Linked DNA regions of Homo sapiens. The protein of the gene in region 1 interacts with the protein of each later gene in a pairwise test. Each region holds a gene or a part of one and is shown on either strand. Other genes may lie near its edges.

The links. Proteins that work in one complex are often made in the same cells at the same time.
Region 2: the proteins of TSKS (region 1) and TPM3 interact in binary tests that used the Homo sapiens proteins (3 or more experiments, as listed by UniProt).

What each region holds. Positions count from the first base shown.
Region 1 is NC_000019.10:49,739,271-49,746,449, forward strand, and holds the end of TSKS (testis-specific serine kinase substrate), read right to left. Parts: intron 6,127-7,179; coding exon 5,932-6,126; intron 5,135-5,931; coding exon 4,961-5,134; intron 2,751-4,960; coding exon 2,615-2,750; intron 914-2,614; coding exon 789-913; intron 663-788; coding exon 506-662; 3' UTR 490-505; downstream 1-489. UniProt on the Homo sapiens protein: May play a role in testicular physiology, most probably in the process of spermatogenesis or spermatid development.
Region 2 is NC_000001.11:154,161,258-154,168,224, forward strand, and holds the end of TPM3 (tropomyosin alpha-3 chain), read right to left. Parts: intron 6,684-6,967; coding exon 6,680-6,683; 3' UTR 556-6,679; downstream 1-555. UniProt on the Homo sapiens protein: Binds to actin filaments in muscle and non-muscle cells. Plays a central role, in association with the troponin complex, in the calcium dependent regulation of vertebrate striated muscle contraction.

The DNA of each region.
Region 1 (7,179 bases):
ATTGCCATCTCAAAGAACTGTACCACCACCAGCACCTCTGTGGGGACCACGACATCCTGTTTGCTGAAAATTAAATAAATCACAGTGGGCTGGGTGTGGTGGTTCACACCTGTAATCCTAGCACTTTGGGAGGCCAAGGCAGACAGATTGCCTGAGCTCAGGAGTTTGAGACCAGCCTGGGCAACATGGGGAAACCTTGTTTCTACTGAAAATACAAAAACTTAGCCAGGCATGATGGTGTGCGAATGTAATCCCAGCTACTCGGGAGGCTGAGACAGGAGAATTGCTTGAACCCAGGATGTGGAGGTTGCAGTGAGCCGAGATCACACGCACTTCAGCCTGGACGACAGAGTGAGAATCTGTCTCAAAAAGAATAATAAAGTTAATTAATTAATTAAAATAAATAAATCACATTGGGCATAGAGGGAGTGCATGGTGTGTGTGCAATTCACTAGGACTCTGGTCCCAAAAAGCAGACAGAATTCATGCTAGCATGAGAGGCCATTTATTGTTCAGGGGCTGAGCCCCCCTGTTTTGGGGGGGTTCCTGCACTGCTGCCTCCCCCCATTGTTCCCGTGGACCCCTCAAGTGGCAGGTTGCTGAGATGATCGTGGAGGGAGCACATCTTCAAGTGTAGATGGTCCAGAGTGGCCATCTTCTCCCTGTCATGAGGCAGCGGGGAGTTGATGGCGGCATGGCTAGGTGCTGGGGTGTTGGAGTGGAAGGGGAGATCAGGCCCTTTCCCCAAGATCTCACCCTCCTCCCATGCCCTCAGCCTCCTTCCTCACTCTGGCTTCATCTTGTCTGTCAGCAGTAGGTTCTTGGCCCGCAGGGCCTCGTCTTGGGCCAGCCGAAGGGTGGAGCTCAGGGCCTCTGCCCTGACGTGTTTGGCTAAGGCCTGGCGCTCCAGCTCCTGGGGAGAGGAGCGTAGGCGTAGCTGGGCTTGCTGGACTGGGCTGGGGGTGGAGGGGGAACTGGATTGCGGAGGGCAAAGGGTAGGGTCCCATGGGGCCCACATTTCTCCCTCAGAGTTTCCCATCATGCCTTGAGCTTGAGACTGACCCCAGCATCCCACAATGCACTGGTCTCCAGATTCCGCTGTGGACTAAATCTGTGTCTGTCCTATTGTCTGTCCCATGATGCACTGACCTATGTCCCAGCAAGCACTAAATCAGTGCCTATCGTCTGTCTCCTAAGCTCATGAACTATCCTACATTTGATATGTGTGTGCACCCCAGTATTCTACCACATGGTGACCTCCTACATTCCATAATTTGGAAGACCCCACATCTCCTTATCCATTAGACCAGCACCTCTCACACAAAAGTCCTGGCCGGGCGCAGTGGCTCACGCCTGTAATCCCAGCACTTTGGGAGGTCGACACGGGTGGATCACTTAAGGTCAAGAGTTCGAGACCAGCCTGGCCAACAGGGTGAAACCCCATCTCTACTAAAACTACAAATATTAGCTGGGCGTGGTGGTGTATGCCTGTAATCCTGGCTGCTCAGGAGGCTGAGACACGAGAATCGTTTGAACCTGGGAGGTGGAGGTTGCAACGAGCCAAGATGGCGCCACTGCACTCCAGCCTGGAGCAACAGAGCGAGACTCTGTCTCCAAAAAAAAAAAGGCCGGGCGCAGTGGCTCACGCCTGTAATCCCAGTACTTTGGGAGGCTGAGGCAGGCGGATCACGAGATCAGGAGATCGAGATCATCCTGACTAACACGGTGAAACCCTGTCTCCACTGAAAACACAAAAAATTAGCCAGGTATGGTGGCAGGCGCCTGTAGTCCCAGCTACTTGGGAGGCTGAGGCAGGAGAATAGCGTGAACCCAGGAGGCAGAGCTTGCAGTGAGCCGAGATTGCGCCACTGCACTCCAGCCTGGGCGACAGAGCGAGACTCCATCTCAAAACAAACAAACAAACAAACAAAAAACAGTCCTTAGTGCCCTGGTTCTCTACGTACAACTGCACCAAGCCCCATTTCCTCTCATGTATTAGTCCTATAGCTCGGCCACATCAATGTCCCACAGTGCCTCACTTGTCTGTCTCACCCACTACAACATAATCCTATAGTACATTAGGTCAATATCCCATAATACAGTGCACTAGGGCTCAAGTTCCACCAACTATTGGGCTGAGTGTGTTGTGCAATGCCCCAGGAAGAGCTGTGGTTCCATTTCCCATAACGCATCAGCTAACTGGGGCCTACAGTCACTGGGTCTCCTATTTTACCTCAATATAGCTGACCCCAATGATCTTGTACAATGCACCGCCTCTCTAAAAGTTTAGAGAAAATCAGGCCTATGTTCCATGAAGCTTTAGACTGGTGTCTGTCTCGTGTCCCACAATGCACTAGATCCAACGTCCTATCATGCTTTAGGCCCAAGTCCATCTTCCGAGGTAGCGTAATGATTGGCCTGTGACTCACTCACCACCAAACTGCTTGTCCATCTCCCCATGCATTAGGGCCAAGTCCTCCCCCAGTGCCTGCTGCTCCCAGCTCAGCCCTTCCCCTTCTGCCACACACCAGCAGTACCCTTGAGTCCGGGGTTCCCCTCCCCTTGCCCCAACAGAAAAGTAAAGTGGGACATGGTGGCCCATATTCCCTGGTACCAGAATCTTCTTGTGTAGCCTCTGACAGCTGGGACAGGCAGGAGTCAGGCCCCTCTGCTTCACCTCGTCCACTAGTGAGGTCAGTGCTCGGTCCAGCAGCTGCTGCAGGGACTCCGTAGACAACTGCGACCCCTGGCTGGGGGAGGGGCGGTCACCAGATAAAGAGGCCCAGTACCAACTCCAGGACGCCCCATGCCCCATGCTCACCTGTGGAGCCTCCATTTGGCCTCGTTTCCAGTATGCACCCTATGCAACCTTCCCAGCATGCACTGTGCACCAGCTGTCCCTTGGTTTCCATGGTGCTCTGGGGATCACTACTCCTTTTTTTTTTGAGACGGAGTCTGGCTCTGTTACCCAGGCTGGAGTGCAGTGGCGCAATCTTGGCTCACTGCAACCTTCACCTACCGGGTTCAAACAATTCTCCTGCGTCAGCCTCCCAAGTAGTTGGGACTACAGGCATGTGCCGCCACATCCGGCTAATTTTTGTATTTTTAGTAGAGACGGGGTTTCACCATGTTGGCCAGGATGGTCTTGATCTCCTGACCTCGTGATCTGCCCACCTCGGCCTCCCAAAGTGCTGGGATTACAGGCATGAGCCACCGGGCCCGGCCCTTTTTTTTTTTTTTTTTTTTGAGATGGAGTCTCGCTCTGTCACCCAGGCTGGAGTGCAGTGGCACCATCTTGGCTCACTGCAACCTCTGCCTCCTGAGTTCAGCGATTCTCCTGCCTCAGCCTCCTGAGTAGCAGGTATTACAGGCACCCGCCAGCACGCCTAGCTAATTTTTGTGTTTTTAGTAGATATGGGGTTTCACCATGTTGGCCAGGCCGGTCTTAAACTCCTGACCTCCGGTGATCCTCCCACTTGGCCTCCCAAAGTGCTGGGATTACAGGCGTAAGCCACCACGCCCAGCCAGAGTCACTATTCCTAAGGGCACCAGACAGCCCTCAGTTTGCAAAGGCCGTCAAGAACTAACATTTCCCATAATACACTAGTGAAACTCGATTTCATGTTGTACTGTGAGTCCCCCTTTCCTACAATGGACCTTCCCACAATGGGCCAAAAATGGTGTATCCCTCGGCTCTCACAATACACCAAGGTCTCACTTCCCCCTCAGTGCACTGAAACCCTGCCTCTCCTCATGTTCACATCCCAGCCTTCCCACAATGCACTGGAAATATGATGCTTAAAATGTACTAAGTGTTTTTTTTTTTTTGAGATGGAGTCTTGCTGTCGCCCAGGCTGGAGTGAAATGGCACGATCTTGGCTCACTGCACCCTCCACTTCCCAGGTTCAAGAGATTCTTTGGCCTCAGCCTCCCAAGTAGCTGGGATTACAGGTGCTCACCACCACACCCAGCTAATTTTTGTATTTTTAGTAGAGATGGGGTCTCACCATGTTGGCCAGGCTGGTCTCAAACTCCCGACCTCAGTGATCTGCCCGTCTTGGCCTCCCAAAGTGCTGGGATAACAGGTGTGAGCCACTGCGTCCACCCTTTTTATTTTATTTTTATTTTATTGAGACACAGTTTCACTCTACCTACTAGGCTGGAGTGCAGTAGCGTGATCTCGGCTCACTGCAACCTCCGCCTCCCGGGTCCAAGTGAATTTCTTTTTTTTTTTTTTTTTTTTTTGAGATGGAGTCTCACTCTGTCTCCCAGGCTGGAGTGCAGTGGCATGATCTCAGCTCACTGCAAGCTCCACCTCCCGGATTTACGCCATTCTCCTGCCTCAGCCTTCCTAGTAGCTGGGACTACAGGCACCCGCCACCACGCCCAGCTAATTTTTTTTTGTATTTTTAGTAGAGACGGTGTTTCACCATGTTAGCCAGGATGCTCTTGATCTCCTGACCTTGTGATCTGCCTGCCTTGGCCTCCCAAAGTGCTGGGATTACAGGCATGAGCCACCGCGCCCAGCCTGGTCCAAGTGAATTTCATGCCCCAACTTCCTGAGTAGCTGGGATTACAGGCACGCGCCACCACGCCCAGCTAATTTTTGTATTTTTAGTAGATACGGGGTTTCACCACGTTGGCCAGGCTAGTCTCGAACTCCTGACACCAAGTGATCCGCCCACCTTGGTCTCCCGAAGTGCTGGGATTACAGGCGAGAGCCACCGCGCCCGGCCTGTACCAAGTTTCTCTTGAGTTCCACAAGACACTGATTCTACCTTGTAGAGTGGGAACAAATGAGGCTTCTAGTGCAGCAGGACCGGCTGTTTCTACAATGCACTGGGATACCTTGTCTCCCAAAATGAACAGCGCCCCACCCTTCACTAATGTCCCATCTCCTTCCGCATCTCCTTTAATGTCCTATCCACAAGGCTCCCAGAGGCAAGCCCAGCCCCGTTACCTGGCACAGCGGGCACAGTTGCCTTGGTGGGACCGATCCAGGTTCATGGAGAGGTCAGGCCCTCTTCGAGAGTTCTGAAATTGCCGCCCGAACTCCTCCAGAATGGGTTTCAGTGGGCCCAGCCCCTCCAGTTCGCTCCTCAGTGAAGCCACAGACACTGCTGACCGCTCCACCCTGAGGCATGAGTAACCAGTGCTGCTGGGTCGTCTCTTCAGCGGTATAACCCTGGCAAGACTCCACCCATTATTAGCCCACCACTTGCGTCTCCATCTGGTCAGCAATTCTCCACCCTGCCCTCCCCTCTCTGCTCTGACTGGCCTCACTTTTTGTATTTTACTTTATGTTATGTTATTTATCTGTTGACTATTTTGAGCCAGGGTCTGGCTCTGTGGCCCAGGCTGGAGTGCAGCAGCACCATCATAGCTCTCTGAAGCTTTGAACTCCTGGGCTCAAGCGATCACTCCTGCCTCAGCCTCCCGAGTGGCTAGGACTACCAGGGTGCGACACCACACCACTCCCAGCTAATTTTTAAATTGTTTGTAGAGATGGGGTCTCCGCTATGTGGCCCAGGCTTGTCTTGCACTCCTGGCCTCAAGTAATCCGCCCACGTCGGCCTCCCAATGTGCTGGGATTATAGATGTGAGCCACCTCACTGGGCCACCTTTTGTAGATTACTGTTTGGAATGCCCCTCCTAGTTCTCTTAATTGATTTTCTCGGATCCCACTTGACCCCACCCTTTGCCCTTTTAAGGTATAGACCACACCCCTTCTCTAATTGATTCCACCCCTCAGGCCTTATTAGGGCTGATGCAACCCTTCCTGCTCTCTAATTGGTGTTTCCCGATGTCGGTATATGTTCCGGAATGCCTGGCCATAGCTGATTGGCCTACCCATTTCCCTCAAGACCCCGCCCTCAGGTTGGGATTGCCCTGCCCCTTCCGGTCTTCCCATGCACTGGCCCCAATCCTCACATGGTGCACAGCTCATCCGCCCGACCTCGCAGCTCCTGCAAGTCCCGCGCCGTCTGTGCCTGTTCGCGCTGTGCCCGCTCCCACTGGCCTAGGAAGCCGTCGACCCTGCCGCCCAGGCCCCCGAGCAGCCGCAGGGCTTCCTGCACCGCCCCCTCCTCCTGATGCCACCGGGCGGTCAGTGAGGACACCTCTCTCCTGGAGGGGCAGAGGAGGGGAATGGGTAGGGGCTAGGCTTCAACAGGTCCCCACCTACCCCCACGAGATAGGTGGGACAGGACTCACCTATCTCGCCCCACTGAGACCATGCCCGTGGCTCCAGACCCACCCAGGTCACCAAATTTTATTGCACCCTCCATTTGGTGAAATTTGGTCGTGTCCTCCAGAGCCCCGCCTTTATCCCCTTCCTTTATTGGCTATCTTGGCCCTTTCCTGGTCAGGTCCCCAACCTCTACCTGGGCTCCTCCAGACACTGGCCCCCCAAGGCACTGCCCACCCTACTCTGCCCCACGTGGTGCCTCCAGGACCACTCCTCTCCTAAGCCCCGCCCACCTCAGTTTCACCAGGCCTGGACCTGCCTCCCAGCAGCCCAGAACTAAAAAGTTCCTTATTCTGTCCCTCCCTTGCTCAGGTCACTGCCTTCGGGGCACTCCCTCCTCTGCTCTTGGAGACCCCAGCCTTGTCGCCTTCCGGTTAAGATCTAGGCCGGGCGCGGTGGCTCACGCCTGTAATCCTAGCACTTTGGGAGGCCGAGGCGGGCGGATCACGAGGCCAGGAGATCGAGGCCATCCTGGCTAACACGGTGAAACCCCGTCTCTACTAAAAATACAAAAAAATAGCCAGGCGTGGTGGCGGGCGCCTGTAGTCCCAGCTATTGGGGAGGCTGAAGCAGGAGAATGGCGTGAACCCGGGAGGCGGAGCTTGCAGTGAGCCAAGACGGCGCCACTGCACTCCAGCCTGGGCGACAAGCGAGACTCCGCCTCAAAAAAAACAAAACAAAACAAAAAACGATCTTTGAGGAACCTCCCCTGTGTCCCCGCCCACCGCAGCTCCTGGAGACTCCTCCCGTGTCTCTACCCACCTTCGTTCCTCGAGGCTCCTCCCATGTTCCCGCCCACCTCAGGTCCCCGAGGCTCCACCCATGTCACCGCCCACCTCAGCTACTTGAGAACCCCCGTCCCTTGGGTCCCGCCCACCGCATCTCCTCGAGGCTCCACCCCTGAGTCCCCGCCGATCTCGTTTTCGAGGCTC
Region 2 (6,967 bases), on another chromosome or scaffold:
TTATTCACTGGGGCGTCCTTGTCAAAATAACAGGTGTTGAAATTTGTGAACTAATCTCTCAAATTTCCTGTGATGTTACATTACATATAGATCTCGTGAACAGCCTGAATTTAGATAATACCTATAACCAAGTTAGTTTGTGTGATTCTCACTTGGGAAAGAAGGATGTTATCAGGATCCTTTTTTTTTTTTTTTTTTTTTGAGTTTCACTCTTGTTGCCCAGGTTGGAGTGCAATGGTACGATTTTGGTTCACTGCAACCTCCACCTCCCAGGTTCAAGCGATTCTCTCGCCTCAGCCTCCTGAGTAGCTGGGATTACAGGCACCCACCACCACGCCCAGGTAATTTTTGCATTTTTTTTTTTTAGTAGAGATGGGGTTTCACCATATTGGCCAGGCTGGTCTTGAACTCCTGACCTCAGGTGATCTGCCCGCCTCCCAAAGTGCTGGGATTACAGGCATGAGCCACCGCACCCAGCCGCGTTATCAGGATCTTTATCCCTCAAAGCAGCCTGGTCAATTCTTTTCCATTTAGGGAAGAAATAAAGAGACAGAGAAGGAGTGAGAGCATTTTATTGCCTGACTAAATCACAGAACACAGAGTTTCCTAGGAATTGCATGAGGTCAGAAAGACAAATGCAGCTGTTCTCTCACTTTGAACTTAGTTTCTAACTCTGCTATCTCTAGTTATTAAAAATTAAGACCAGTACTAGCTCCTTAAAGTTTTTGGTTCCCTGATAATAGCTAAAACAAAACAAACGAAAAGGCAAGGCAGAGAACCTATTTGGTCTAGCGTTCTTTTCAGCTATATCTAATTAAGAAACAACCCCATGGCCAGGTGCAGTGGCTCAAGTCTGTAACCCCAGCACTTTGGAAGGCCGAGGCGGGCAGATCACGAGGTCAGGAGTTTGAGATCAGCCTAACATGTTGAAACCTAGTCTCTACTAAAAACACAAAAATTAGCCGGGCTTGGTTGCACGTGCCTGTAATCCCAGCTATTCAGGAGGCTGAGGCAGGAGGATCACTTAAACCCAGGAGGCGGAGCTTGCAGTGAGCCAAGATCACACCACCGCACTCCAGCCTGGGCAACAGAGCAAGACTCCGTCTCAAAAAAAAAAAAAAAAAAAAACACAAACCAACCCCATGGAGTTGGATAGTATTCAACCAACACCATGTGAAAGGAAGAGATTTGGTTGGGGCTAAGATAAAGCTGCCAAACAGAATAGGTCTAAGATAAAGCTGCCAAACAGAATAGGTCAGTTGTACCTATCAGATAACTTGGGGTTACTACATCTTATTCCTTATCTCAATGATGGTAACAAGGAAGGGCAAAATGGGCCTGTGGTTCTTAGAAATTAAGAGGGGGTAACATTAAGGGGACAAATGTTTTACTCTGATGCTTGACTTCACCCCAATACTAGTCCAGGCTCAAGTAACACAGGATGGCTTCTGCAAGGATATTAAGCCTTAAACAAAGGAATGAATTTAGCATTAGCACTAATTACATAGTACTTCATTGTCCACTTTGGTACCCCAGTTTGTTGGTCTCTATCCTTGGCTCACACTAGTCATACCGCAAGGAAAACAGGAGATACCACAGATCAGAGCTATAACACCTTACTTTTCTCCCAATCTCCCTCTTATTTCCTTCTTTTTTTTCTCTCCTGCCTCAGCCTCTCGAGTAGTTGGGACTACAGGCATGTGCCACCATGTCCAGCTAATTTTTGTATTTTTAGTAGAGACAGGTTTTCACCACGTTGGCCAGGATGGTCTTGATCTCTTGACCTTGTGATCCACCTGCCTCGGCTTCCCAAAGTGTTGGGATTACAGGCATGAGCCACCATGCCCGGTCTACTTCCTTCCTTTCTAAGAAGTCTTTCTTCATGTCAAAGCCAACTTCTGCCCAGGATCTGAATATTTAGAAATGCATTGTCCAATATAATAGCCACTAGCCACAGGTAGCCAAATTTAAATGAACTACAATGAAATACAATTAAATTTTAGCCCCTCAGCCACACTAGCCATGTTTTGAGTGCTTGACTGCCACATGTGGCTAATGTACTAGACATCATTACCAAAAGTTCTGTTGGAAAGCCCTGCTCTAAAGTAAATTATATTGCCTATATAATCTTCCTACCAATACACTCTTTTGCCCCTGAAAATGACTCCTCCTCTTCACTTCTTAACACTCAAAATGTACCCTCAAATTACTAAAGTATCAATGCATGTCCCATTTTCAGTTATCTTCCTTCTTAGCCTCTCTGTTGAAAAACCACTAGAAAGCATCCAACCCGGAACTTTTTAAAGAACTACTCAACCGTCTTCTTTCCCTCCAATCAGTTCCATTTGGTTCCTCCTCTTACATAACGTTTTCCTCATTGTTTAATTTTTTTTTGAGACAGAGTCTTGCTCTGTCACCCAGGCTGGAATGCCGTGGCACAATCTCAGCTCACTACAAGCTCCGCCTCCCGGGTTCACGCCATTCTCCTGCCTCAGCCTCCCAAGTAGTTGGGACTACAGGTGCCCGCAACCACGCCCAGCTAATTTTTTGTATTTTTAGTAGAGACGGGGTTTCAACGTGTCAGCCAGGATGGTCTTGATCTCCTGACCTCGTGATCCGCCCACCTCGGCCTCCCAAAGTGCTGGGATTACAGGCGTGAGCCACCGTGCCTGGCCTCTTTTTTTTGTATTTGCAATTGTCCTTCATGGTTCTAATTTACCTCCATGGCATAAACTACCTGTACCCCATATGGATTCCCAACTCTCTTATGTCAACCTCTCTGCCTCACGCCCTAGAATTTTGTTTTCACCCAGATACCTGCCAGATTGTCAGCCGTATCTTCTTTCCCTTCCCCCAGCTCCCCAAACCAGGACAACATGATCTCCCTACATCTTTAACCCCACCACTTTCCTACTCTTTTTTTGGGGGGGGTCTCATTCTGCCACCCAGGATGGAGTGCAGCAGTGTGATCACAGCTTGCTGCAGCCTCAGACTCCTGGGCTCAAAGGATCCTCTGGCTTCGGCCCTCCAAGTAGATAGGACTGCAGGCACGCACCACCATGTTTGGCTAAGTTTTTATATTTTGTAGAGACAGGTTCTCACTTTATTGCCAGGCTGGTCTCGAACTCCTGGATTCAAGAAATCCTCTCACCTCAGCCTCCTAAAGTGCAGGGATTACAGGCATGAGCCACTGCACCCGGCTAATTCTCCTACTCTAAAAACCAGTCATCCTTGTCTTTCCTCCTCACATCAAGTGGCCAGGCCTTTCACAATGCCTGTCTTTATTTAGTGCTATCTCTCCTGCCACTACTCTAGCTCAGACCCTGATTATTCTCTCCTAGAAAACTAAATTAACCTAACCCAATTTTTTCCAAAGTGTGGTGTATTCACTGCTATAGTTACTTTAATGTGATTAGGAAAAAACACTAACACATCAAAACTTTGATTTCAAAATAGAATTGTGTCAAGTAAGAACAAAATAAATCTGGAAATGAGTAGATCTGAAGAAAACAATGTAGGCAGCAATGAATATGGAAAAAGCCATCAAAAATGGTAACATAAATGGCTGAAATGTGAGAAACACCATGTTAGTGAATCACTTTGCTAATCTGCAAATTAGTTACCAAATTAATTCTTCTTATATGTTATTCAGATCACAACATATCCTATTCAAAATCTCCAGTGGCATCCCCATTAACTCCAAGTAAAATTATAACTCCTCAGCCTCATTTTAAGACACAACCTGTTCCCTACTCTGTCTAAATCTACCTTTAGAGCTATTGTGGCCTTCTCATCTCTATCAATGCCTTTATTATTTTGTTTCTCTTTAAATGGAATGCTCAGGCCAGGTGCAGTGGCTCACGCCTGTAATCCCAACACTTTGGGAGGCAGAGGCGGGTGGATCACTTGAGGTCAGGAGTTCGCGACCAGCCTGGCCAACATGCTGAAACCCCGTCCGTACTAAAAATACAAAAATCAGCTGGGCATGGTGGTGGGTATCTGTAATCACAGCTCCTCGGGAAGCTGAGACAGGAGAATCGCTTGAACTCAAGAAGCAGAGGTTGCAGTGAGCCATGATCTCACCACTGCACTCCATCCAGCCTGGGTGACAGAGCGAGACTCCATCTCAAAAAGAGAAAAATAAATAAATAATGGAATGCTCAATATTCACTATCCCACAACCCAACTCTGCTTGTCAAAAATCCACTTTTGGAACCCAATAAAAATGAATATGCAAGTTTAACATGTTGGCTGGGCGCAGTGGCTCAAGCCTGTAATCCCATCACTTTGGGAGGCTGAGGTGGGTGGATCACTTGAGGTCAGGAGTTCCAGACCAGCCTGGCCAACATGGTGAAACCTCACCTCTACTAATAATACAAAAATTAGCTGGGTGTGGTGGCAGGCGCCTGTGATCTCAGCTACTCGGGAGGCTGAGGTGGGAGAACTGCTTGAACCCAGGAGGCAGAGGTTGCAGTGAGCTGAGATCAGGCCACTGAACTCCAGCCTAGGTGACAAGAGTCAAACTCCGTCTCAAAAAAAAAAAAAAAAAGAAAAAAAGAAAAAAGTTTTAACATGTTTATGAAGTACCCATTACATGCCTTCTTCCATGAGTTTTTCCAATTCATTCCCACTAGGATCAATCTCGTCCCCTCTACTCAATTCCCATAACACTATTATTTGTGGCATTCATCACACAGTATCTGTAGCTTTATGTATGTTTTCTCTCCTAGTAGATTCTAAGCAACTTGAGAGTAGGAATGGTGCCTCCATCTTTATTTCTGTCTCCATCTTAATATCCTATACCTAGAAGATACCAGGAAGTGTCAGCTGAATAAATGAATCTGAACCTTAATCTCAAAGGCTATGCGGCAGTAAGAAATGGAATGGACAAAAGGAAACGTGAATTTGATATGACTTAAAGTTTTAGATTAAGGAAAACTTCCCTACCTGATTATATCTGTTTAAAAGAAGAGCAAAAGTGTTTTTAACAGATGGAATCTTGCTGTGTTGCCCAGGCTGGAGTACTACAGTGGCTATTTATAGGTGCAATCCCACTACTGATCAGCACAGGAATTTTGACCTGCTCCATTTCCGACCTGGGCCAGTTCACCCCTTCTTAGGCAACCTTGTTGTTCTCCACTCCCAGGAGGTCACCATACTGATGCCAAATTTAGTGAGGACATCTGACCTGCATAGCACACTACAGTGCAGAACTCCTGGGCTCAAGCAATCCTCCTGCCTCAGCCTCCCAAGAAGCTACAGGCAGTACAGGCAAGTGCCATTGCACCCAGCTAAAAGAAAAGCAAATTTTAAATACATACCCTGCTGGGAAACTAAAGTACTAAGTGAACAACACTTACGTGCTTGGATTAGTATAATTCACAGCTATACTATTAAGAAATCTCTGCTGTGTAAATTGGAATGCGAATTCCTTTTTTTTTTTTGAGATGGAGTCTCTCTGTTGCCCAGGCTGGAATGCAGTGGCGCGATCTCCGCTCACTGCAACCTCCGCCTCCCAGGTGCAAGCGATTCTCCTGCCTCAGCCTCCCGAGTAGCTGGGATTACAGGCACCCACCCACCATGCCCAGCTAATTTTTGTATTTTTAGTAGAGACGGGGTTTCACCATGTTGGCCGAGCTGGTCTCGAACTCATGACCTCAGGTGATCCACCTGCCCCAGCCTCCCAAAGTGCTGGGATTATAGGCGTGAGCTACCACGCCCGGCCTATAATGGGAATTTCTAAAATGTTGATATTTAATTCCACAATATGAACCAAGGAAAATTTTACTAGCAGAAATTTATGTATGTAATAAATCATTAGCCTCATATGCACATTATTTGAAATATGCATGATTGGTCATTTTAGTTTTCCCAATAATAATTTATCACTTATCTTATATCCCACTAGTCACACACTAGCAGGCAAATGGTAGCAAGTCTCAAATATGTAAGAAAGGTTTAAAGAAGAAAAAGTAAAAAAACCGTCCAGAATTCTATCCATTGTGTATTTTTCTGTGACTGGAGTTGACATAATTAGTCAATCTTAGCAATAATGTATTGGGTTCACTGGGTGTTCTGAGGATGCACCATTTGAACCACCGGTAAAAGGGTACAGAATGTGTATTGAGAGTCACTTCAATGGCTTCTCAATGACACCACACCAAAGGAGGAATACCTGAAGAGAGAATGGAAACACTGCAGGCAGGATGATTTAAGAACCTGGAAATAAGGAATTTAATCTTGTTCAGCTTGAGGAGTATAACTAAAATTACTATCCTGAGTAACCTGTACTAAATCCATCACTCTGGTAGAATCAGATCAGCTGAGTTTAAATGTCAAGAAAAAATAGACACACACAAAAGTGGCTTTGATTACATAAGTCAGAGGAGGGGGAGCCTACAATAGCTCTTCCCCACATCACACCCCCAAGGCTCCTTCTTAGGGACAGCAACAGCTTTGTCAATGACACAAATGCAGGGTGGCATGAGGTTTCCAGCAGCTTAACATTTTAATTTGGGGTGGGGGTGGAAGAAAATACATAAGTTGCTTTTTGCTCCCCCATCCTAATGCCTTGGGGACCAGCCAGGCTGACCCAAATGGAATCCAGAGCGAGAGTGGGGCCTTGGGTTCCCCGAGGAGTAAAGGGGGCAGATCCAGAACAGAGCAGAAACGGTGATAATTATCTGTATGAAAAAGTAAGGATACTCTAGGTGAGAAGGACTAGCATCAATCTAGATAGCAAACTGGGAAAAAGGAAGAGGAAAAAAAGGAAGAGGTGGCAGCAGGAATAATAAAAGAGAGCCAGACACTTCAGCCTGAGAAATGTGGCTTCTTTTCAGGGTTAGTGGGAAAGATACAAAGAGGCAGATTAGCATCAAGGATCAGGGATCCACAGCAAACAGATGAAGCCCCAACAACTCTTTTTGGTGCTGTTTATCACTTGGCTTGCTTCTGGGACTCAGCTCAA